7 linked regions of the Homo sapiens genome follow. The protein of the gene in region 6 interacts with the protein of the main gene of each other region in a pairwise test. Each region holds a gene or a part of one and is shown on either strand. Other genes may lie near its edges. The genes, in order: EPM2A, SUCNR1, CAPN2, MAGEA8, SNCA, LAMP2 and DLX3.

The links.
Region 1: the proteins of LAMP2 (region 6) and EPM2A interact in binary tests that used the Homo sapiens proteins (3 or more experiments, as listed by UniProt).
Region 2: the proteins of LAMP2 (region 6) and SUCNR1 interact in binary tests that used the Homo sapiens proteins (3 or more experiments, as listed by UniProt).
Region 3: the proteins of LAMP2 (region 6) and CAPN2 interact in binary tests that used the Homo sapiens proteins (3 or more experiments, as listed by UniProt).
Region 4: the proteins of LAMP2 (region 6) and MAGEA8 interact in binary tests that used the Homo sapiens proteins (3 or more experiments, as listed by UniProt).
Region 5: the proteins of LAMP2 (region 6) and SNCA interact in binary tests that used the Homo sapiens proteins (3 or more experiments, as listed by UniProt).
Region 7: the proteins of LAMP2 (region 6) and DLX3 interact in binary tests that used the Homo sapiens proteins (3 or more experiments, as listed by UniProt).

Annotation. Positions count from the first base shown.
Region 1 is NC_000006.12:145,624,805-145,627,520, forward strand, and holds the end of EPM2A (laforin), read right to left. Parts: coding exon 2,612-2,716; 3' UTR 921-2,611; coding exon of another isoform or gene 891-920; 3' UTR 501-890; downstream 1-500. UniProt on the Homo sapiens protein: Plays an important role in preventing glycogen hyperphosphorylation and the formation of insoluble aggregates, via its activity as glycogen phosphatase, and by promoting the ubiquitination of proteins involved in glycogen metabolism via its interaction with the E3 ubiquitin ligase NHLRC1/malin.
Region 2 is NC_000003.12:151,876,643-151,880,142, forward strand, and holds part of SUCNR1 (succinate receptor 1), read left to right. Parts: intron 1-3,209; 5' UTR 3,210-3,250; coding exon 3,251-3,265; intron 3,266-3,500. UniProt on the Homo sapiens protein: G protein-coupled receptor for succinate able to mediate signaling through Gq/GNAQ or Gi/GNAI second messengers depending on the cell type and the processes regulated.
Region 3 is NC_000001.11:223,747,039-223,750,538, reverse strand, and holds part of CAPN2 (calpain-2 catalytic subunit), read right to left. Parts: coding exon 3,374-3,500; intron 1,501-3,373; coding exon 1,417-1,500; intron 1-1,416. UniProt on the Homo sapiens protein: Calcium-regulated non-lysosomal thiol-protease which catalyzes limited proteolysis of substrates involved in cytoskeletal remodeling and signal transduction. Proteolytically cleaves MYOC at 'Arg-226'.
Region 4 is NC_000023.11:149,880,052-149,883,982, reverse strand, and holds the start of MAGEA8 (melanoma-associated antigen 8), read right to left. Parts: upstream 2,801-3,931; 5' UTR 2,698-2,800; intron 1,616-2,697; exon of another isoform or gene 1,485-1,615; intron 913-1,484; exon of another isoform or gene 634-912; intron 162-633; exon of another isoform or gene 1-161. UniProt on the Homo sapiens protein: Not known, though may play a role in embryonal development and tumor transformation or aspects of tumor progression.
Region 5 is NC_000004.12:89,726,381-89,729,161, forward strand, and holds part of SNCA (alpha-synuclein), read right to left. Parts: intron 281-2,781; coding exon 248-280; 3' UTR 1-247. UniProt on the Homo sapiens protein: Neuronal protein that plays several roles in synaptic activity such as regulation of synaptic vesicle trafficking and subsequent neurotransmitter release.
Region 6 is NC_000023.11:120,452,297-120,455,796, forward strand, and holds part of LAMP2 (lysosome-associated membrane glycoprotein 2 isoform A precursor), read right to left. Parts: intron 3,275-3,500; coding exon 3,061-3,274; intron 1-3,060. UniProt on the Homo sapiens protein: Lysosomal membrane glycoprotein which plays an important role in lysosome biogenesis, lysosomal pH regulation and autophagy.
Region 7 is NC_000017.11:49,992,425-49,996,528, reverse strand, and holds the start of DLX3 (homeobox protein DLX-3), read left to right. Parts: upstream 1-1,304; 5' UTR 1,305-1,530; coding exon 1,531-1,855; intron 1,856-2,938; coding exon 2,939-3,129; intron 3,130-4,104. UniProt on the Homo sapiens protein: Transcriptional activator. Activates transcription of GNRHR, via binding to the downstream activin regulatory element (DARE) in the gene promoter.

The sequences.
Region 1 (2,716 bases), on a different chromosome or scaffold from region 6:
CATTATTTCTTACACCAAGCCAAGTGATTTTTACCACACCTTAATGATGGTCAAAAGAGAGTGTTTTGTGTTGTGTTTTACATTTTTCCTAATGCTGGCAAGCAGAATGATAGAAAGATAATGTTTCAAGTCTGAAAGAAAACCACCTCATTCAGACTTTCCTTCACCATGAATGAGATCTTCTCATGATTGCCTTTGAGAAATCCGTGATTGAAAAGTTTTGTTAAACACCAGTGACAAGCAGCTAATGGCATAATATCTGCTTTGATTTTCTCAGACACACTCTAAGTTTTCATCCTCACTTCTCTGTGGTCCTTCACCTTTGACTTCCTTTATCATGTAACTGCCAATTTTGATCGTTTAATTGAAAGAGGAAGAGTGACAAGAAAAATAAACAATTTAGCTCAGTGGATTGCCCCCTTTACAAATAAGGAAACAAAATTTGTCCTTCTAGATTTCAGACTAAGCTGATAACATTTTAAAAATCCTGTACAGAAAGGTCTTTTTAAATGCTTTTATTTGCCAAAAGTTTTGGGTGATTTTGAAATACATTAGACATCCCATTCATTGAGGAAAAAGACAGTTTATTCCAAAACATTCTTTAATAGTCCTAAACTGATTTTGTCTATCAGAGCAAAAGGAACAAAGGTAAAAATCCACCTGAAAAAAGATCTTTGTATCATGGAAATTATGAAGCTGGATTTCTTAGACATTAAAGAAATTCACAGACCCACATAGTTTAAAAATTTAATTTTTAAGATTAAATTTTCACAACACATTATGACTGTAAATGAGTTACCTGAATACCAATTATTACCTCTAGTTATTTTTAGCAAGGGAGCTGGACTTCACTTTACTTAATGCTAGCTTATAAATTTAACTTTGTAAAATTATAGTGGAAATGTGTCCTGGCTAGCTGCCTCTGCCCAAAGCAAATGTCATCTCCCCTAAGTGCCACAGTTCTATCTCCCCGTCCTCTGAGCTCCACTGAAACTTACCTTGTATCCTTCTTGTCCCCCACGCCTTCTAAATAAGAGTCTCTTGCATCTATCAATATGTGTTTGTGGAAGAAAGGAAGGTGCAGAAAAATAAATACGCATCATAGTTTAATTAGGAAAGTAAGGGCTTTGAATCAAACCCAGCTTTGTATCTCACTTCATCTATTTATTCATCATGTGACAATAGACAGTTGAGTTAACCCTTCTGACCTTAGTTTCCCCATCTTTATCATGGAGATAATGAGACCTTCTTCATTGGATATTGTGAAGATTAAACTGGATATGATTATATATCACCTTGCACATAGAGGCTCTCAATTAAAAAAACACTTCTCTTTCTTCTATTCTAGCATATCATTCATGGTCCAATCCTGCATTACAGTTGGTTGAATGCAGGTCTGTTTCTAGGCAGCACATTTTTGAAGGCAAAGTTGTTCATCTCTGTATTTCCTGTAGAACCTAGGGTGATGAGCTGCATAGTCTGGAGGCACAGGAACTGCATATTATACTAAATTGAGAGCTGAGCCAGGATGGCCAAGGCTGTGAAGCAATTATCCATGGATTTGGTCATTTGGGCTCTTTTGGTAGTATAGTTCCTCTCATGAATTTCCACTCTGGTCTTAAAACAGCCCATCATGTTTTTAAATTAGCTTGCACAAAATACAACTAATTTCCTAGATTCTTTGGCAACTGATCAGAATACTATTCTATGTCTCGCTATAGAAACTCCTGCAGGCATATTGACTATACCCTGAGAAAGACAAAACTAAATGCACTACATGATGCTGGGAAAACAAGTTGTGATGAAAACAGTGCTGAGTCAAATAAATATAGATTATTAACTCCAGCTTGCCCTTGACTGGTCATGAGACCTTGGACAAGCTACCTATGCTCATTAAGCCTCAATTTAACTTCTTGACATCTCAACTATAAAAAACAAGGGTATTTTTTGCTTTGTTTGGTAATTTTGAGGAAAAACAACAACAAATGAGAGATAATTCTACTTTAGTTGTTACACAGGGTTGTTGGGTAGAGAAGGAAGGTGATGCCTTGGAACAGACTTTAACAACTGTGAGGCAGGATAAAAAACAAGTCCTGAAAGCCATCACTTTTTGACCATAGTGAGCTCTTCTTTTGTAACGGTTCAGGCTTCTAACCTTATTTCCTCCTTTGGCAACTGACCAGCTCACGCACACATACTAGTGATGAAATCCACATAACTCCATATCTTTTCCTCTACATGGCCAAGAGTTTCAGTGCAACAGGAAAGTGCTGTCACGGATCCATCGTGCAACACATACAGTGCTGTAAAGCAAAGGCCTCGTCTGCCTGCAGGCAGCAGGAACTGCACGCATTACCCTTCTGTCTGATGTACAGCCTAACTGCTTCGTGCTTCTTCTCATGTGTTGAGCCACAGCTTTCTTGTAGAGTATTTCAAAAATACAGCCCCAAAACAAAGCATAATCGAAAGTCATCCCAGGTGAAAGTGGTTGGCTTGGGGGAGGTCACACAGTCCTTTCAGTTCAGGTAGAATCCTTGTTTCTAGGTCATTTGACCAACATCATCCCAGGCTCCTTAGGGAAATCAGGAGGGGGCAGAAGCAGGCTGACCAGCTACAGGCTACACACAGAAGAACGAACCTTCCCAAATTTCTGGAAAAAATCTTCTTGTGCCCGGGCCAAGGCCTCTTCGTCAATGTAGACAGCCGGCCTCTTGGC
Region 2 (3,500 bases), on a different chromosome or scaffold from region 6:
CCTGGTAGATATTTAATTTTGCCTTATACAAATGTGTTTCTAAACTACAGCTACTACTACTACAATTACTAATTTTTAATACTTATCATATTATATTATATATAGTGTTGACTTTCACAGTGAAATAAGCAATGAGCTTAATCTGATGGTCTTGCTGCTTATCTGGCCTTGGAGAAAATATTTATAAAAATGCTTTGTAAATAGTCAGGTGTTCATATTCATCTCTTCACTCAACAAAGATTTATAGATCACCTACTATCTGCTGGTCACTGTGCCAGATGTGGACAATAAAAAATGAGTAAGACAAAGTTATACAAAATTCTAAGAAGTTTAGTATACAATGAAAGCATAAATGGGAGGACCTACTTTAGACTGAGGGTCAGACAGCCTACCTTGGGAAACCTACACTTGAACAGAGGCCTGAGAGAAGTATAGATATATGACAAATATGTGATGGGCCAGGAATCACAGGACAAAAACAGCAGTGAAAAGAGATTCAGATAGAGGGACTGCATGTTAAGAAGGCTCTCTGTGCATTCAAAGAGCAGGAAGAAAGGAAGATGAATTAGGAGGAGAGTAATGCCAAGCAAAATTGAAGTGGGTGCAGGGGCCAGATCATGCAGACCTTGATGTCCCCATTAAGGATTTTAGACTATATTCCTTGGATAGTGGAAAGTTAATTAAGGGTTTTGATCAAGGAAAGCTATATGATCTGATTTTGAGTTGTAGTTTTTCAAGACTGTTTAGCTATAATGGTAAAGATGAACTGATGAGGGCCAGAGAGGATGTGAGGAGACAATAGCAGAATATGACATAGAGCAAAATAGAGATAAGAGTAGCCTGGACGAGAATGATAATGAAAGCTATAGAGCAGTAATGATAGATTTGAGAAATACCCAGACATTACAGTAAACAGACTTGGTAGTTTATTCATTACTGGTGTTGAGTTTTAGATGACTTTGAGGATATTGCTTAGATTTTCGTGGTGAGCACCTGGATACATGGCAGAACCATTTACTGAAATTGGTGGATATGCTGCAGGCTTGGTAAGGAATTTGGAGAATTTGGTGTAGGATTTCTAGAGGCAGAGACATCTGAGAGAAATCAATCAATGGCAATAAACAATTATAGTTTGTAAGGCAGATACAAGCTGGGCTGGAAATCTGGGAGTTGTTGATGTATAGTTGGTCATTAAACCTCAAAAGTGAATGAGATCATTTAGGAAGAATCTATGAAAAGAAGGAGCCCAGAAATTAGCCTTGAGGAACTCAACATTTATTGCTTGAGCCAAGAAGACTTGAGCCCCAAAAGTGCCTGCAAAGAACAACCAGGGAGAAAGAAGGGAAACTAGGATATTGTCATGTCTCAGAAGGCAAAAGAAGAGTGTTTCCAGAAGACAGAGTATGAAAAACAACTGATAAATAAAATAAGATTAGTGAAAAATGATTATTGGAATGAGCAATGTGGAGGCTACTTGGAGGACTGGTAGGTCCGAAGCCAAATTGGAGTAAGTTGAAAGGGAATGGGGTGTCGAGATGTCAAAACACTTAATGAGATGGCTCTTTCCAGAAATCAAACTATGAAGAGGAGAGGAACACGTGAAACTAGGGAGAGTTGTTTATGTTGCTCCTTATTGTAAGATTGAAATGATGAGAGTGTTTAAATTCTAATGGAAAAGAGGACATGAAGACTGACGATGAGGAGAAGAATGCTGAAGAGTCAGAAAAGAAGAAATAATGGTACCATGGGAATACTGAGAATTTGGGAATGAGTTGGATCTAGAGTAAGCTCAACAAATGCTCTCTATCTCAATGAACTAGGAGGTAAAACCATTTGCTAATAATGAGTAAGGTAGAGTAAATGAAAAAAGTTTTAAGAGATAAAAAAATATGAAATTGAGAAATATAGGAATATGCTGGCAATATGAGAGAGCGGTAGAATTAGGTGACCTCAAAGACAGAGTGAAACCCATCTGCTTTATTCTTCAGCAGCATTCATGTGTCTGCTGCTTGAGAAAGTTTCCACTCAGCTTTGTCTGGAATTGGACTTAGTGGCAGGTTGCCATAGAGAGATTCGAGAGACTCCGAAAAATGTATAATGTTTTAAAGTAAGTGATTAAAAATAACTTTTCAAAATATTAAACTTATATCTACAATTCTGTGACTTATTTTCATAAATAAAACACTCTCAAAATAACAATGATCTTTAACTAAAGTAAACCACTTGAATTTGACAAAAATACATGAGTTTTCCAGATGCCTTATCATAGCAAATTCTACTGAATTTTGCATGCTTCTCATAAAAAGCAGTTTAGGTGCATTTATTCTTATTTTGTTCTATTTACCAAAATTCTAAATTGAAAGAATTGTTTGTTTGCAACTAATACTCAGAAGCCTACTTGACAAAGAGGTTTTTAGAACATTTTGTTTTCAACCTTGGTTTTCCTCACTAGAAATAAGTAACACTTAATGTTTAACAATGGCAATCCAGTACTTTTTTCAGATAATTAAAGTTCTTGAAATACCCTATCCAATCACAATCTGGCCTCTTGACAAGAGTTAAAAACAGTAGGTTAGCAAGACTCTTGAGGTTTGAGTGAGTCAGGTTGCTTATTTCCATGGTACATATTCAGAAGGCATTACAATAAAGGTCTTTCACTAAGCATATGACCTAGGCAAATGCCATGGTCTTAATATTGGTGTCTCCTCAAAATGTATGTTGGAACCTAATAGTATTAAGAGGCGGGGCCTTTTGGAAAGTGATGAAGCCATGAAGACTCTACCTTCATGAATGGGATTGGTACTCTTGTGAAAGAAGATTAACGGAGCTGCCTTGCCCCTTCTGAAATTGTTGTGAGGACACAGCAGCCACCATCTTTGGAGCACAAGGTGACTTTTCATCAGACACCAAATCTGCTGATACCTTGATCTTGGACTTTTCAGTCTATAGAACTGTGAGAAATAAATTTCTTTTTTTTATAAATTACTGAGTCTGAGGCATGGCATCTTTCAATAAATCATGACCAATGTTAATATTACTAAGATTTTCAGTTTCATATTTTGAATTTTTAAAAATTAAGTTTTAAAACTGAAGTTGTATCATAGTTTATGAATTTAATACAATAAGCAGAATTCTTTGGCAATATGGAAACAAGTAAAAGCTTAAAATAGTGAGACTGAAGTTCTAAAAATTCTTATTTCCTCTTCTAGGTTATGGTTTAACTCAGCAGAATTTGTTGAACAACTACGACATGCTGGGGATCATGGTATGTTTAGAGACACAAAAGTGAATTCAAAATCTTCTCTTCAATTATTTTATCATACGTTCCCTTTGTTTCTTTGCTATTTGCCAAGCCCTCTATTTGTGTTTCCACCTTAATGCCTTCACATGTGCTCTTTCTTATGCCTGGAACACTTCCTGCAAATATAGATATGTCTCTTTCACTTTCTTCATTGAGGTTTTTGTTTAAATGTCATCTTGTATAAAAGCCTCTCCCTTAT
Region 3 (3,500 bases), on a different chromosome or scaffold from region 6:
GTGATAACAGGCACATGCAGTGAGTGAATCTGGATTGAGTCCTGGATGGGGTTGGGGTGGGTCGCCAGAAAGGACATTTTGGGCAACTGGGAAAATGTTAGTATAGACTTTATAATAGATGACACTACTGAATTAATGTTATTTTCTTAGGTGTGGCAACAGTAGAGGAATTATGTAACAGAATGTCCTTATTCATAGGGAATAAATGCTGAAGTATTGAGGAGGGAAGTGTCATAACGTCTGCAACTTACTTTCATATGGCTCAAAAAAAGTGCACACATAGATAAAGCAGACATGGCAAATGTTAGCAATCGGTGAATCTAGGGGAGTGGCAATTGGATAGTTATTATGTTAGTCTTTCAACTTTTCTGTATACGTGAAAATTTTCAAATAAAAAGACGTGTGTGTGTGAGGGGGTAGTTAAAAAAATCAAGGTTAAAAAAAGAACACTGGACATGCAGAAGATCTGCGGTCTAGACTGGGTTCTGTAATTAACAGTGAACTTGAGTTGCTTGATAATTTTTTTTTTGAGACATGGTCTTACTTTGTCGCTGAGGCTGGGGTGCAATGGCATGATCATGGCTCACTACAGCCTCGACCTCCTGGGCTCAAGTGATCCTCCCACCTCAGCCTCCCGAGTAGCTGGGACGACAGTGGCATGCCACCATGCCCAGCTAACTTTTTTTTGTAGAGACAGGTTCTTGCTACGTTGCCCAGGCTGGTCTTGAACTCCTAGGCTCGAGTGATCCTCCCACCTCGGTCTCCCAAAGTGTTGGGATTTCAGGTGTGAGCCACCATGTCAGCCCATAATATTTTCAATAACAACAGTGATCACAACAGCAAGGACAGCTACCTCCTTATATATGATGTGTGAGTCACCTCTGAGCACTTTACATATATTAACTTGATTGAATCGCCACGACCTTCCAATGGATATTATCATTATTTCCATTTTTTAAATGAGGAAACTAAGGGACAGAGAGTTCCAGTAATTGGCCCAGGCCACACAGCTGGTAAGAGGCAGTCAGATTTGAACATGGGCACGAATACTTTTACGAGATCAAAAGAGAAAGCACCTTATAGAGTATAAAACACTATGAAGATGCATTGTTTTATTATTTTTAGCTTATCAAAATAGTAAGGTTGTAACTGTAAAACAGGGTAACATCTAAAACAAGTAAAACCAGGGCCCCTGGCGCCGGCCACTGCGGCCACCAGGTGGCAGCGCGGCGCACCCGGCGCCCGAGCTGCGAAAGGGACGCCCTTCTCCTCCCGCGCGGAACTTCAGGAGTGCGGGGCCCGAGTGTAAACTGGACCACCGTGGGGCCGCGCGGGCCCCTGGGCATCACCACAAACTGTGCCTGTGGCCATCGTGTCAGGACAGCAGGACCCCTGCACATCCGCGCCGGCCGTTACCTCCTCGGCTCCGGTGACCGAGTACGCGTGCCCCTTCACCAGCTTCTGAAACGTGATGGCCTCCGAGTCCGCGGCGCTGGTGATCTGCAAACACAGCAACCGTCAGACTGGCCGCACCCGCTCTCCCTTCCTCCCGGACTCCCTCGCTCCCTCTGTCCTACTGCCGGGCGGGACCGCCGGACGCACTAGCGCAGCGGCCGAGGCCTGGGGTGGGAGGCTCAGGGCTGCGCTTTCTTGCACTTGGAGAACCTTTCCTACCCCGTTCAAATGCTTGAACGCCGAGAATACCAGAGAAAAGGCGGAATGCAACCCTCTCGCGGAACGAGCACAGGCATTCCCGTGTGAATAGCGCATCCACGGATTTCTGCAGGCTGGGAAGGGCGGGAAAGGGCGCACGGCCGAGAGAGGGCTGGAGGGGGTCCTCGATGGCGCAGGGAAAGGGCGCACGGCCGAGAGAGGGCCGGAGGGGGTCCTCGATGGCGCAGGGCTGATACCCAGACAGCCTTGAGTGGCCCAGGGACACTGAGCACACCCTCGCCCCACCACCAGCCCATGCTCCGTGGTCTGGCCCAGCCCAGCTGTAGGGTTTATACTAGGACGGTTGTTTATTCCGGTCTGAGTCAGAATTTGCTTCTGTTTTAAGAACGCCTCACAGCCTCTCCTTTCCCCTATCTATTCTGATGAAGGTTGAGCCTGGGAAGAAGGGCTGGAGCAGAAAGGGTCTTCTGCCTCAACGTGTTCTGCTGATAAACTTTGAGAATTCCTGCCTAGGGAGTCTGACCTAGATTTTGGCTCCAAAAGCCAGGGCTTCTTATCTCTGTCCCCCGCAGAGACCAGAACCTGGATGGGACAGGGCTCAGAGGTTGGGCACAGCCTTTGCTCCAAGGCTCCTGGGCACAGTGCCCACCTCCCATCCCCTGGTGAGCGTTGCCAGCAAGGCTATTATGAGGAAATCTTTCCTCCTCTTCCTTCCGAAGTCTCCCACGGGCCTATTAGCTCTGCAAGAGTGCAGGGGAAGGCTGCACAGCACTGCAGATGGAGGGGAAGGTGGCAGGGGCAGCAGGTGGCAGGGGCTCCCAGGGAACCTGTGGTCAGAGGGGTGGGGGTGATTCAGAGCAGGCTAAGAGTGGGAAGTGGACTGAAGACAGAAGGGCTGGAGGCACCATCACCCCATCCATTACACCCCAGACAGCTTGACTTTTGCCTAGCAACCCTTGGCTTCCAGGTGATGAGCAATAATGGTAGACACTGGGGTGCTCAGAAACCAATACCTCTAAGAGATGGCACTTTGAAATGCTAAACTGAAGAAGCCTCAAGATCTCTCTGACCTCCCCTTTCCTTCTGTCTCTCGATCCACTCTCCCCCAAAGCACAGGAGGAAGCTATTCTCTGAAGTTCCCTCACCTGCCTAAAGTCTGGACCTGCCAAAGATGAAAACAATGACGTCTGGTCCTTTCCATGAGTTATTATGAACTGAACTCATATTGCAGGAAGAAAGACAAGTCTGTCAACATGGCTAGACAGACTTGTCACAAACCACTGTCTGCTCTGCAGGCCCAACAGACTTTATCCCAGACCATTTATGTTCTTTAAGCCCAATGAATTCCCCTAAAAATCATTTACGACATCCCTAAAATCATCCGCACCTCCCCATCTCCCTTCCCCTAAGAGGAAGGGAATATAACCCTCTGTATCCCAATGCGTGGTAGGGAAATCTCTTGTGATTCTCCCCTGTCCACATTCATACATTTGTATGCCATTTCTTGTATTAGTCTTCCTTTTGCCAGTTGATTTTCAGCGGACCTTCAGAGGGTGGAGGGAGGTTTTCCTTTGGCCCCTACGTGGACGAGGGCTGCATTACGTTGTACACAGGAGCAGTGGGTTCCCTTGGGCACTGTGGGAGCCTCCCTTCAGCAAGAGCAGATGGGGTGAGGCTAGGGAAGGCAGCCTGGACTTACGTCGATGGAGCAGCCAAGGAGAGAGCCTTTTTGCAGAGCTTTCTGGATGATCTTGAACAGGTTGGGAGGGGGCTTCTTCAACTCATACCACTCAGCAATGCCTCCGGTGAAGTCTTCGAAGCCCTCA
Region 4 (3,931 bases), about 29 Mb from region 6:
AACTGTGGGGTTCCTGCTGTTCTGATGCCAGAGGGGCCTCTGGTATACATACAGGGGAAACACCACCTCAGCTTGACTGCTACTACTGCCTGGGCCTCTTATGCTCTGTGATTGAAGATACTGCCTCAGACCAAGACCTCACAGCCTGGTTCCTGGAGCTCCTAGAAGATAAATCGAGGGGAACTCAGGCTGCAGACTGCAAGCACAGCCCCAGCACCCCAGTGCTGTCAGGAGGGTGAGCCTGACTCTGTGAGCTCCCCACTATTTTGTGTGGATGGTCCTTTCTGTGCTCATTCAGGGCCCTCATCTTTCTCCTGGCAGGGCCTGGATCTGGCCCTTTTGCTGGCCTGAGAAACTTTCAGATCAAGAGTTTATATCCCTGATATGGAAGACAAGGATATGAAGGGACCCACATCTGGCCCCACATGCCCAAGGCCTCCTGGGAAAAAAGCAATAGCTACACAAAATGCAATGGGGCCCACGTGTCCTGTCCTAGGGTGAGAAAAAAGCAATAGCTACACAAAATACATTGGGGCCCATGTGTCCTGGGCTGACCTGAGGCCACTTCCTTAATCCAAGGACCTATCTCCAGGAGACACTGGAAGAGCAAATGAGGGGATTCCATCCACCCACCTTTCCCTGCACTTCCCATGGCTGACAGAAGGTGCAGGGTGGGGTTCGGTCCTGTGTGTTTGGTGAGTGGTGTCCTCTGAGTCCCTGACTCCTGGCAGGGCCTTGGACCCCCGCTCTGCTGACCTGAATGCAGTGCCCTCAGACCAAGGCCTTCTTCTCCCTGAGACCAATGAGTCTGGTATAACACAGGGGCCTCAGCTGATAGTCCTGCTCATGCTCTCAGGGGTGACAAAAGAGGCCGGGCAGATTTCTGTTGGGCCCCCATCTGTTTTTTGCCTGCTAGGAGAACCATCGAGGGTACCCTCAATCTTCCCTCAGTGTTGTCACCTAGACTCTTGGTAGATTCTTGGACCACTGAGTCTGTTGCCCACATGGGGGTCCCTGTTTTGTCCTGAGTTGCCCTCTGAGAACAAGGTCCTCACTTCCCTGAGATCTCAAGAGAGAAATGAGGAGCCACCACATCTGATGACCACTGGGTGGGGTGTCCAGGGGTGACACTAGGATCTGTCCCTACTTGTTCTTGAGTGGTGGGTTCTAAGGTCTTCAGGGGGTTATTCATCTTTCCCCTGATGGAGCCCGCCCTTCCTCAACCCACAACACCCTGATATGAGCAGACATCTCCCCTTACCACCAAGACCTTATCTTCCTGCGTTTCCCCAACTTCCTGCCCACAGTACAGATGAGATCTCCACTTAGGGCCACCCTTGATCGGGTTCCCCCAGAGATAATAACCAAAGTTAGCCAGACTTTGTGGGGTCCCTTCTTTCCAGGCCAGGAGTACCCCCATTCATCACAAAGTGAGCACATCTTGGGTCCTGCAGATCCTGTGACCCCGTCCCTCTGTTGAACAGGTGTGGCTCCCTCTGCTGAGCTGAGGACGCCCTTCAGACCCAGGTTGCTACCTCCCTGAGACCCAGGAGGCAGAAGTAAGGAGGCACTACATGGACAACCCTGCATGGGATTCCCACGGCTGACAGAAGTAGTAGGTTTCATGGGGTCTTTCTCTGTCTGGGTGTCATCCAGGTATTCATATTTACTCCACGACAAGGCATGGCCCTTTCCTTCCTGCTGAACCGTGGATGTGTCTTGCATGCCAAGGCCACCATCTCCTTGAGGCCCCCTACCAGAAAGTGGGGGGGCCACATCCCTTCCCCACTGTCCTGCCTTGGGTGCCCAGACCTGAGAGTGGGAGCAGGTTTCCTAGGCCATGATGGGAGGTCTGCTGAGTCCTCCTTAAGGGCTCTGGGGCACCTCTCTCCAGTGATCTGAGACTCCACTCCTCAGACCACAGCTGTCTCCTTTCTGACACCCTGAAAATGCAGCAAGGATGCGCCACATGCAGCCACAGATCCTGGGACTTCCCAAGGCTGAGATCTCCACTGATCTGGAGTCCAAGGACCCCTGAGTCCTCCCTCTTCTTCTTCTCCTTGACTCCTGGCAGGGCTGTTCACCACCCCCCTGCTGACTTGAGTTTCAGTCCCTCGGATTCCTGAGGCCAAATGTGGAGGCCCCTCAGTCTCAGACAGGTAGGGTGGGCCCCCTGTCCTGGGGTCCTGGGTCCCCTCGGGCCTCCTCATCTCCCAGCATAGCCTGGGCCCTCCCTCTGCTCCTCTTGAGTCCGTGCTCATGAAGCCCCTTTGCTGCATCAGCCCCGGATGCGGACGTCAGAATCAGCGAGCCCGGCCGCCATGCCCGGCCGCCATGCCCGGCCGCCATGCCCGGCCGCCATGCCCGGCCGCCATGCCCGGCCGCCATGCCTAGGGCTTCCCAGGGCTGACAGTAGGGGCAGAGATGTGCTCTGTGGAGCCTCAGCCCTCCCTCAGGGTCCTGCCCTTGATGCCTGGCAGAACCTGGGCCCTGCCCTCTGCTAACCAGCCCTGCTCTGGTCACACCAAGCTCTCACTCCAGATTCCCCTGGGGCTTAAGCGCAGGGCTGGCGAGGGGTGGCCCAGCCAGACAAGTCTGCCCCCTGGTGGTCCAGGGCTGGCAGCAGGGGCGGCGCTAGATTATTTTGGGTCCTATATGAGGGGTGGGGGCCTCCTCAGTCCTCCCTCAGGGTCTCACCTTGCCTCCTCACAGACCCTGAGCCCGCTTCCCTCAGCCGATCTCAAGCCGACCCCTCAGAACCAGGCCCTCGCTTCTCTCTGATCCCCGCGGCCACGTCAGTGGCGTCACATCCGTCCACCCAGGGCTCACCTGGGTGGACAACAGGGGCGGAACCGGATTCTAGTGGGGCGGGGGATGAGGGAGGAGCGGTTCAGTCATCCCTCAAGGTTCTCACTTTGAGATCTGGCAGAGCCTGGAGCTCCGTACTCTGCTGATGGTGTCTGCTTCCCTCAGACCAAGGTTCTGATTCCGAGTCCCCTGAGGTGGCAGTGGGGGGAAGGGTGTGGTGGGGGGACAAGGCTGCTGGGGTCTTTCAGGGCTGACATGAGGGTCTGAGCTGAATTATGTGGCCCCTCTATGTGGTGTGGGTGGACCCTCAGTCCTCACTCAGGAGGGTCCTCTTCTTGACTCTTGGCTCTTTTAGGAGATACTCTGTTTCTGTCACCTCTGAGCATTTGCACAGCTGCACCCCTTGCAGAGAATGGCTGCGGGTCCCAGGCCAGATTCTCCCTGTGGGTTTGCAGCACCTAAGATTGTAGTGACCTCTGGGAGAAGAGGCACACCTTCCCACGGGGGCTCTTCCCCAGCTAGAAGAGGATTTTGCAAAACTTTTGTACTAAATGATTTATTTTTACACTGAAGAAACTGAGTAGCTGCAATAAATTTGTGGAAGTCCTGAGTTTTGAAGTTACCTAACAATTCCTATTCCACTTTAGTGATTTTCATAATTTAATTCGCATTCGTATAGTAAGAAACGAATTTTAAATCTATGCCAATTGTATATGTGCATTATATTTATGTTTATATGCATAAACACATATGTATGTATATGTTTATATTATATATGTGTAATTATATGAATGTATGTGTATATATCTTTACATATATTTATACATATATGTATGTCGACTATACGTACTTATTTTATCAAACAATATCTACTCATACAATGTGTGATTCACTCATACTATTCTATTTCTAGTTCATTATATATATTTGATTAAAATAATAGTATTTTGGAAGGTAGTCCTAACCTACTCTTTGTTTCTAGTTGTTATTAGCAGAATTCTGGAGCCATGGTGTCTCAATCAATCCAATTTTCCTGGTGTCCTGATATTACCCCTGGGCTACTGGCTTCGTGTTTTGAGGTGCAGACTCGGATCCTACATTGATGTGGGGTGGTCCTTTAAAA
Region 5 (2,781 bases), on a different chromosome or scaffold from region 6:
TAGATTGAAGCCACAAAATCCACAGCACACAAAGACCCTGCTACCATGTATTCACTTCAGTGAAAGGGAAGCACCGAAATGCTGAGTGGGGGCAGGTACAGATACTTCAATCACTGCTGATGGAAGACTTCGAGATACACTGTAAAAACTTTGAGAAATGTCATGACTGGGCACATTGGAACTGAGCACTTGTACAGGATGGAACATCTGTCAGCAGATCTCAAGAAACTGGGAGCAAAGATATTTCTTAGGCTTCAGGTTCGTAGTCTTGATACCCTTCCTAATATTAGAAAAATCAAAAAGACAGCACACACTGTTAGTATAAGTTTCAATTACGCATCAGCACTGACAGCCAATGAGATAGGAAATGGCTCCCCACTTACACTAAAATTTACAATCAATGTTTTTGCAAATATTCTGCAGCAAATATTATCTTATTTTTAATAGTTGTGTCTTTCTTGTCTGATATAAAAGTGAATTACAGTAGTAGTCAGAGTTAAAATATCTAGGTTCTGATCCGGATGCACCATTTAATGATCATATACCTAGTTTGGTAGGACAAATAAGTTGGACTGTCTGGTTCTCAGTTTCTTCACCTGTAAAATGTGAGAACAAAATCAAGCTGTCTATAAAGCCTTTTCCAGACTAAGATGCTCTAATTCTCAGAAGGAAATTAAGATGTTTGAAGGCAAGATACATTTTCCCTACTTTCACTCTCCCAGTTGAAAATTTCGTCTTCATCTATGGCTTCAATTATTACTTGTATTTCAAACCTCAAGCTCTCCATACAGTATCTGGATAGCATCCACAACACAAATATTAATGGATTTAATTAAAGGGATCAGATTATTCCTCCTAAAGAGCAACTCTAATAATATCAGGATTCTGCTTAAAAACAAACAAATAAGCATAACTTCAATAACTCAAGTTGTTTTCTGAATAGAATACAAGCTGAAATGACAAGATTATCCTAATACTCTATAACTTGTCTTTGACCCATAGCTGCAAATTCAATCTATCACCATTTTCCTTGTTCCTAAGCTTGAGTCATAATTATTCACTGTTCTCAGACATATCCATTTGCATGCTCAGACATACATGCCTTTGCTTCTGATATTCCCTTGTGCCAGAATGTCCTCTGTTTGTTTTGACCTACTATATCTCTTACCTTTTCCCACCCAGATCAACATTACCTCCTCAATAAAACTTCTCCTGATTGATTGAAACAGATCTTTAAAATGTTTTACTTTTTAGTATGTCTTATATATTTTTGCTCCTGTGATGCCTGGTACATCGAAGACAATCAATTATGTTTGTTAAAGGAATCATAATGAAGAAATGAATGAATGAATTTCTATTTTTTTTCATCAAACCTACCAGACTGTAAACTCCTTATGTCCTGGTAATGTCAATTACTCTATAGTTTTCCATTGTGTTTAGTACTGTGTCTTGCATAAAAGACCCCAAAATATTGGAAATTCTTATTAGGCAAACAAACAATTTAATCTCAATTTCTATAAGTTGAATTATTATCAATATGCCTTTCGTGTGTCTGTGTGAGACAGTCTTGCTCTGTTACCAAGATTGGAGTGCAGGGGTGCCATCTCAGCTCACTGCAACCTCTGCCTCCTGGGTTCAAGTGACTCTCATGCCTCAGCCTCCCAAGTAGCTGGAACCATAGGCGTGTACCACCATGCCCGGCTAATTTTTGTATTTTTAGTAGAGATGGGGTTTCACCATGTTGGCCAGACTGGTCTCCAACTCCTGGCCTCAAGTAACCTGGCCACTTTGGCTCACAAAGTGCGGGATTACAGGTGTGAACTGCTGTGCCCATCCTCGACATGCCTTTTAATAATGCCGTGAGGAATAATACATAACCAAACTACAACATACTTGAACTCAATTTTTAATGGAGCCATTATATAGTTTCTTTTCTTGTGATATCTTCATTTGGTTTTGATTATCAGGGTAATATTGGTCTCACAAAATTAGTTGGGAAATGTCTCCTCTTCTGTTTTGTAAGAGATATTAATTGGTGTTAACTAATTAGTATTAATTCCTCTTTAAATGTTTGGTAGAATTTACCAGTGATGCCATCTCGGCCTGGGATTTTCTTTGCAGGTAGGTTTTTTTTTTTATTACTAATTTAATCTATTCGCTGTGTTACAAATCTATTCAGATTTACTGTTTCTTCTTGGGCCAGTTTTATTCATCTAACAGTATTTTCTAATTTCCCTTTTGATACATTTTCTATTAAAGATACTTTCATTTTCAATCAAAATAAAATTAACAATCATATTGTGTTGTTTAAAACATTATACTGGAATATATCAATTGTCGCAAATCATGCATTTATCTTTTTATTCTATAACTTGTGTGGGTAACTTTTATTTTACTATGCGTCATCCCATTGGACATGTATGGCAAAAAATAATAACCTTCCTTTGGCATTCCATTGATTTCCCTAACTTTCCATTTAGAAATTTATTTTAGAATGTAAAGTTTCTAAAAATATATTCTCTAATGCAGGGGTTAGTAAACTTTTCCTGTAAAGGGTCAAGTAGTAAGTATATTAAGCTATGTGGACTACATATGATTTCTTTTACATCCTTTCTTCCTCTTCTTCATCTTCCTCCTCCTCTTTTTTTTTAAGGACCCTTTAAAAATGTAAAAACTATTCTTAACTTGCAAGTTGTCCACGTAATGAGCATGTAGAGAGCAAATGATTCTCACTAAGCACTAATGAAAGAGAAATGTGACAATGACAGGTTTTTGGTACTG
Region 6 (3,500 bases):
ACAGCCTGATTTAATCAGGCAGCTCTCCAATTACTGCCGCATATGCTATGCTTCCCCCTGCTGGAAACATCCTGCTCAAAATCCTCCGCTTACTCAAATTCTACCATTAGCTGAGTTTCAGCTCAGGTCCTACTTCTCTACCAAGCTTTCTCACTACTCTAACACACACTGAGCCTTCCTTTATCACTCCTCCTAATCAGGACCACTTGTGGGAACACGGGAACACTTTTAAATCAGCCAGTCTTTTCTTTTTCTTTTCTTTTTTTTTTGAGACAGGGTCTCTCTCTCTCTGTCACCCAGGCTGAGTGTAGTGGTGGGATCACAGCTCACTGGAGCCTCAACCTCCTGGGCTCAAGCGATCCTCCACCCTAGCCACCCAGGTAGCTGGGACCACAGGCACACGCCACCACACCTGGCTTTTTTTTTTTTTTTTTTTTTGTAGAGACAAAGTCTTAATATGTTGCCCAGGCTAGTCTTGAACTCCCTGGCTCAAGTGATCAGCCTGCCTCGGCCACCCAAAGTGCTGGGATTACAGGCATGAGCTACCATTCTCGACCTAAATCAGGCACTCTTAACCACAGGGATCTACATATGGGTTCAGGGACTATGTTCCATATGCAAAGTTTACTGTGTACTTTTTCTTTTTTGAGAGGGAGTCTAAAGTTTTCCTCACACTGTCAGAAGAGATTTATGAACCCTCTACTCCCTCAAACAAAAACGCAAACAACAACAACAAAATCAGACTGAGCTCAATGTTTTCCAATTTTTCCATGTAACTCGGGAATAGCATTTAGCTTTGTCTCCCCAGCTCATTCTTAGGCTACTTGAAAGTGAGGGGCATATCTTATACTAGCTCTGAAAGGCAAAACAGGGCACAAAGATAAACTGATAAGATAGCCAATAACCATTTGCTTTAGTTATACTCTCAAACTAAGAGATTAGTAAAAAGAACACTAGGATTTGATTTCCAAGTCTCATTCTGCAATACCTCCCAAATTTTACGTGAGCTTATTTACTTCTGGTTCTTTCGAATAGGATCTTTTGACATCCTTAAGTCCAAATGAGTTATTAATCCCCAGGTCTAGGCAACTAAAGCCCATCTACCTGTTTCTGGGGTCAGAATGAAACACTATCTGCAAAGAGCTAAGCTACTACAAATACCACATTAACTCAATCTCAACGGGCAGGGGGAGAAAGAAGAGAATTATATCCCTAACAAAATTAAAATCTCGACCACGTGCGGTGGCTCACGCCTGTAATCCCAGCACTTTGGGAGGCTGAGGTGGGTGGATCGTGAGGTCAGGATTTCGAGACCATCCTGGCCAACATGGAGAAACCCTGTCTCTACTAAAAATACAAAGATTAGCCGGGCGTGGTGGCACGCACCTGTAATCTCAGTTACTCAGGAGGCTGAGGCAGGAGAATTGCTTGAACCTGGGAGGCGGAGGTTGCAGTAAGCCGAGATCAGGCCACTGCACTCCAGCCTGGGCGACAGAGCGAGACTCCAGCTCAAAATAATAAAATAAAATAAAATCTCTACACTCTATATCTTCAAAATATTTTAACACGCATTTCAGTTCTGGGAATTACTAGAATGGCCTAATTGCCAATGCTTCCCAAGTTCATTTTGACCTGAAATTGTCTTAAAATAACAGCAAATGTTGACTTTAGTCTCCCCTTATCCACGGTTTTTGCTTTCCCTGGTTTCAGTTACCCATGGTCAATTGAGCTCTGAAAATATTCAATGGAGAATTCCAAAAGTAATCAATTCATAGGTTTTAAAATGTACGCCATTCTGAGTAGCATGATTAAATCTCTTGCTGTCCCGCTCTGCACAACCAGGAACATGAATCATCCCTTTGTCCAGTATATCAACGTTGTCTACACTATCCATCCGTTAGTCACTTAGTAGCCATGTCAGTTATCAGATCAAAAAAAAAAAAAAAACATAGCATTTCCTGTATAGGGTTTAGTAGTAACTGCAGTTTTAGGCATCTACGGGAGATCTTAGAATGATACCCCCTGAGTGTAATGAGGGACTACTACACCTTTAACTAATCATCATTTACTTTTCAATCAAAATCCAACCTAAATGATAAAAAGATTTGAACAAGAGGCATTTCTCCTAGTCTCAGGTTACTTAACTTTTACACATTTAAAATAGCTATTAGTAGCCAGGCACAGTGGTGCATGCCTGTAGTCCCAGCTATTCAGGAGGCTGTGAGGCATGAGGATCGCTTGAATCCAGGAGTTCAAAACCAGCCTAGGCAACATAGTGAGACACCCCCCCCAACCCCCGATCTTGAAAATAAAGTAGCTATTAGTAAAGCATTTTCTCATTCATCAAACCTTTGTTTCATGCACACTACTGAATGAAATCAATAATAGTTAAGTATATGAATTCTGCAGGTCAATAGACTGCTTCAAACACCAGCTCGCCCACTTACCAGACTGTGTGATGTTTGGAAAAGTCATTTAATCTTATCAAGCCTCATTTCCTTTACCTGTAAAAATGAAACAACATCTACTTCCCAGGGTTGCTGTTAAGAATTAAGTGAGATGCTGCAGGTAACACACTAGGTGTGTTACTGTATACTAGGAGATATATATATATATATACACACACACACACACTAGGATATATATATATATATATACACACACACTAGGATATATATATACATATATACTAGGATATGTGTGTATATATATACTAGGATATATGTGTATATATATATATACATATATACTAGGATATACATATATATGTATATATATACACATATATATGTATACTAGGATATATATAGTAAGGTGACTTACTGTATACTAGGATAATACCTGGTATACAGTAAGTCACTCAAGCAATGACAGCAAATATCATCAGTATGTTGGATGGTGTCATATGTGCCATGCATGGGGTCAGTGGGAGGGTTATAAAGACATGAAGTTTCCATGCTAGTTAGGAAGACAGACATTCATAACAATTTTAAAATTGTTTACATTTTTATCATTAATAAAAAGCAAGAGAACATAACACAAATCCATTCTTAAGGTTACCTTTATCTTCAGCATCAGGAAATGTTGTGTTATCACCAGTGTTGTAGGAAAATGAGACGCTGTCAATTGAATAAGTAGATGCTGCCTTGGTAAAATTCGCAATCCAGGAAAAGCCAGGTCCGAACTGCACTGCTATTTTGGGACCATTCTGATCATCCCCACAAATGCTTCCATTATATGTCACAGTGCCATGGTCTGAAATGGTTACAGTTTTCTAAAAGAAATAGAAATTTGGGGGTGAGAAACAAACAGGCAGCAAGGAACACCAAGCATTTATGTAGGGCATGCCACTTCAGCCTAAATCATACATTCTCCATGGCCAGGTTGCCCTTTGCCTGGTTTGCTGTGTAAACCAGTCCCTGATTCTTCTGCTACATACCACTCCTCTGGATAAATTCGTGTATGTCTAAAAAGAAAAGGAAAACTGGCTTGAGCTGCTG
Region 7 (4,104 bases), on a different chromosome or scaffold from region 6:
CACAGAGGGGAGCCATTCTTCAGGGCTTTTCTGGTGCAGGAGGAATTCAGTGGAGCAGTACAGCTCCCAGCTACTGGAGATGAGGAAGGTACTAAGCGGTCTAGACACATCTGCCTACAACCACATGTTCACACGCGGATGGCCCTCCACTCATGCTGCCTGCACCCCGCCCCCGACACACTCCTGCATGCATGTACCTCTGTGGATACTGTGGAACACATGAAATCCTCACATCACACACCCCAAATACACTCGTCCCATGCACCCAGTCCCCAAAAGTGTCCCAATTCCCCAGTGCTGTCCCATGATACACAAAATCTGCCCTCAGACTTACTGAAGCACACAGTCACAGAGCCAGCCTGTGTCCACCCAACCTCGTGGGGACCCCAGGTCCCTTGCTACCTTCAGCAAGACTGGGCCATCTGTGAAACTGCACATACATAGCTTTGGAGATAGTTCTGGTATCACCGGACAGGCTGTACATCCCCAACAACCTCTAAATCCACACAGGTCTGCTTCCCCTTCTCCAATAGGATCCTCCTAGTGCTAAATTATGTCTTTCATAGGCTCAAGACATTCTTGCCCGGTGGGCACCTTCCTAAATAAAAAGAAAATTTTTTAAATTACGTTTTTGTAATTATGTAATACAAGGATATAATAGCAATGACTGCATTGCTATTAAGATAATATATTAATATCATATATTCAAACATTCTCTTTCACCTAAAAGGTGTTTTCCTTTTCTTCTGATTTTAAGAGAAACCATTTTCAGGGGCTGTGAGTCCTCACCACTTTGGGTACATTTGTGTGCCTGTCATTTGCACAGTGCGTGCACACGTGTGCACACACACACAACCATACCCCACCTTAGACCATCTCTTTCCACAAACACACAATGGGCAAACTCCCCTCCTTGCCCACCTCACCTAAGCCCATCTCTCATCCCCCAGCCAGAGAAACAGACTGACAGATCCTGGGGGCTCCACAGAGCAACCCTTCCCCTCCACCTCCACGCCCCTCCTTCAGAGAACTTATCTGGGCTGGAGCTACAAGAGTAGCGAGGGTGTGTGTGTGTGTGTGTGTGTGTGTGTGTGTTTTGAGTAACAACAAAGACTGGGGAAAAAGAAGAGAGAGGAGGGAGGAGAGAAGGAAAAGGGAGAGAGAGAGAGAGAGGAGAGCATAGGAGCGAGAGAGCAAAAGCGTGTTTTGCCTGGAAGGCAAGACTTGCAGCCAATCAGCGCGTAGGAGCCTCCCTCGGCGACTCCACTATTGAGTCTATAACCGGCTGGCCGGGCGGAGCTGGCAGCATTTGATTGTGGCTTGGGACGCGAGGAGAGGCGCGCAGCGACCGCCTGACGGCAGGCAATGGTGTAAGCGCCTCTCGGCCTCCCCCTCCCCCCAGACGCGGCCGGGTCCTCCCTTCGCCTTCTGGACACACACCCCTGCCTCGTCTCTTCCGCCTCTCTCGCACTCCGGTCCGTTCCTGTCCTCTGCGGAGGCCAGCCCTGGGGAGGTGCAGCGCCCGCCAGGATGAGTGGCTCCTTCGATCGCAAGCTCAGCAGCATCCTCACCGACATCTCCAGCTCCCTTAGCTGCCATGCGGGCTCCAAGGACTCGCCTACCCTGCCCGAGTCTTCTGTCACTGACCTGGGCTACTACAGCGCTCCCCAGCACGATTACTACTCGGGCCAGCCCTATGGCCAGACGGTGAACCCCTACACCTACCACCACCAATTCAATCTCAATGGGCTTGCAGGCACGGGCGCTTACTCGCCCAAGTCGGAATATACCTACGGAGCCTCCTACCGGCAATACGGGGCGTATCGGGAGCAGCCGCTGCCAGCCCAGGACCCAGGTGAGGGCCACGGGGTCGCGAGGACAGTGGGAGACACTGGAAGGTTCCCGAGGGAGGAAAAGGCATGGACTGGAAGCCAAAATCTAGGAAAACTTCTAAGAAAAGTACTGTCTGGAGTTAGAGAAGTTGGCCTAGATGACCCTCAGAGGGACCAGGCGACCTTCCAGCCCCGGGTGTGCAAGCATTTGGGGCGCGATGTGCGCAGTGCGCCGCGGTCCCGGATGAGGATCGGGATGAGCTGAGAGAGGAAGGGGAAGGCTGTGGGTTGTTAGGAAACCTCCGAATCGAGGTGATTTCGTGGGCATTTCAGCAGGCGATCCTCGATCAAGTCGCAGAGGGCTTGGGGGTAGGCGGCAGGGGCTGGAAACTCTAGGGGCCCTCCTTTGGATAAGGGATGGGGAGACTAGGAGTCGTGAGGGGGCAATGAGAAGGACCCACGGAAGTTGCGGGAAAGCGGAGGGAAGCAGCCACCGAGAGGCAGAGAAGCTGAAAAAGGGAAAAGTGAAGGCAGCAAGAGGGAAGTATGGAAAGACAGTGAGAGAAAGGGCAGAAGAAACAAGAAAGGAAGGAGAGAAGGAAGGGGGGAAGAAGGGGGACAGGGAAAGAAAGAAAGTCTGCACTATCCTTGCAACTTTTCTGAAAATCTAAAGAGATTCTAAAATGAAACTTTTTTAAAGGGCGGGGGGCGGACGGGAAGGAGCGAGAGAAACAACCGACGGCGAGATGGGACTGGGAAGGGGGCGGCTAGCAGCCGGGCGGCGAGGAGCCCCGAGGCTGGGAGGCGAGCCGGGAAGGCGTCGTGAGCGAAGCCGAGGCGGTCCTGGCGCAGGCGGCGGCTGGCGCCGGGGACAGTGCTGCGGCGGCCGGGCGCGGAGCTGGGAGCGCCGCGTTGTGGGCCGCGGCCAGTTCTGGCTCTGGGGCCGCGGCTCCCCCCTGGGCCGCGGGCAGCGGAGCGCGCGGCCGGGAATCCCGCGGCGAGTCGGTGGGCGGAAGCGAGGGGCGTCCGGCGGGGCCCTGGAGGGTCGCAGGAGTCGCAGGCCGAGGCTGAACCGCCCCCTCTTCCGCCCGGTGCGTTCCCCGCAGTGTCGGTGAAGGAGGAGCCGGAAGCAGAGGTGCGCATGGTGAATGGGAAGCCCAAGAAGGTCCGAAAGCCGCGTACGATCTACTCCAGCTACCAGCTGGCCGCCCTGCAGCGCCGCTTCCAGAAGGCCCAGTACCTGGCGCTGCCCGAGCGCGCCGAGCTGGCCGCGCAGCTGGGCCTCACGCAGACACAGGTTGGTGTTTGGCTGTCCAGGGCCGCGGGGGCGCGCGGGACCCCGTAGTTCCCCGCGCGCTGCCGAGCCTGGCTGGCCACTGAAGGGCCCTGCGGGCTCCTGGAACTCTTGCCTTTGGGATGGGGGCCTGCGAGGTTCAACTTCGGTGGGAAGGTTCTGCGTTAGCACGTGTACAAGTGAGCATAGTTGTGAACCCGTGCAACTGTGTATGTTCCCCTACTCCAGAATTCCCAGCTCCCAAGTCCCCCAGCAGTGCTAGTCACTTAGTAGGAGTCCACATCGTGTTTTCCCTCCAGGCTAGGCATGTGTGCAGACTGTCTGTGTGCATGTATAGGCGAGTGTGTTTGCACACATGCTGTGTGGGTCTGCATGCACCGGAGGATGCTCATGTAAGGAGTGTGATCCTGCCGGGGTCATTGTGCATAACGATGGGGGCATGTGTGTGTGACTGTGCGCCCTGAATGTATATGCGTTCTGAATGCATGTTCAGAAATGTGTGCTTGCATCAAAATACCACATTCCTGCTCAGCACTTGAACGCTCAAGAGAGGCCAAATTCCCTACCTGAAGGAGATGGGGACTCAAAAGTGAGTGCCGCACCCCCACCCTCATCCAGTCCCTAAAGCCCCCAGCAGCCTGTCACTGCTCAGGGGAGGAGCAGTGGATGCCTGGCTCCCTCCAGGTGTTGACAGGCGGGCCTAGGTTGTGGCTGTGGCTGCGTGGGGCCCCATCCGCCGGGAATCTGGGTCACCTGGTGAGGAGCTGATTCATTGTTTGTACCAGTCATGGGGTGGGGAGTGGCAGGGGGAGGGGGAGATACCCCAGGGGAAATTTGGGGAATCATGGCTCACCTGCTCCTGAGTCCCCAGGTCACCCCCATTATCCAGCCCGAGCCCAGGAGAACTTCTCCACACCTGAGTGTGTGAATGTGGGTGCTCATGTTGTGGGGTGCTTATCTGGGTGTATCTGTGTCTGC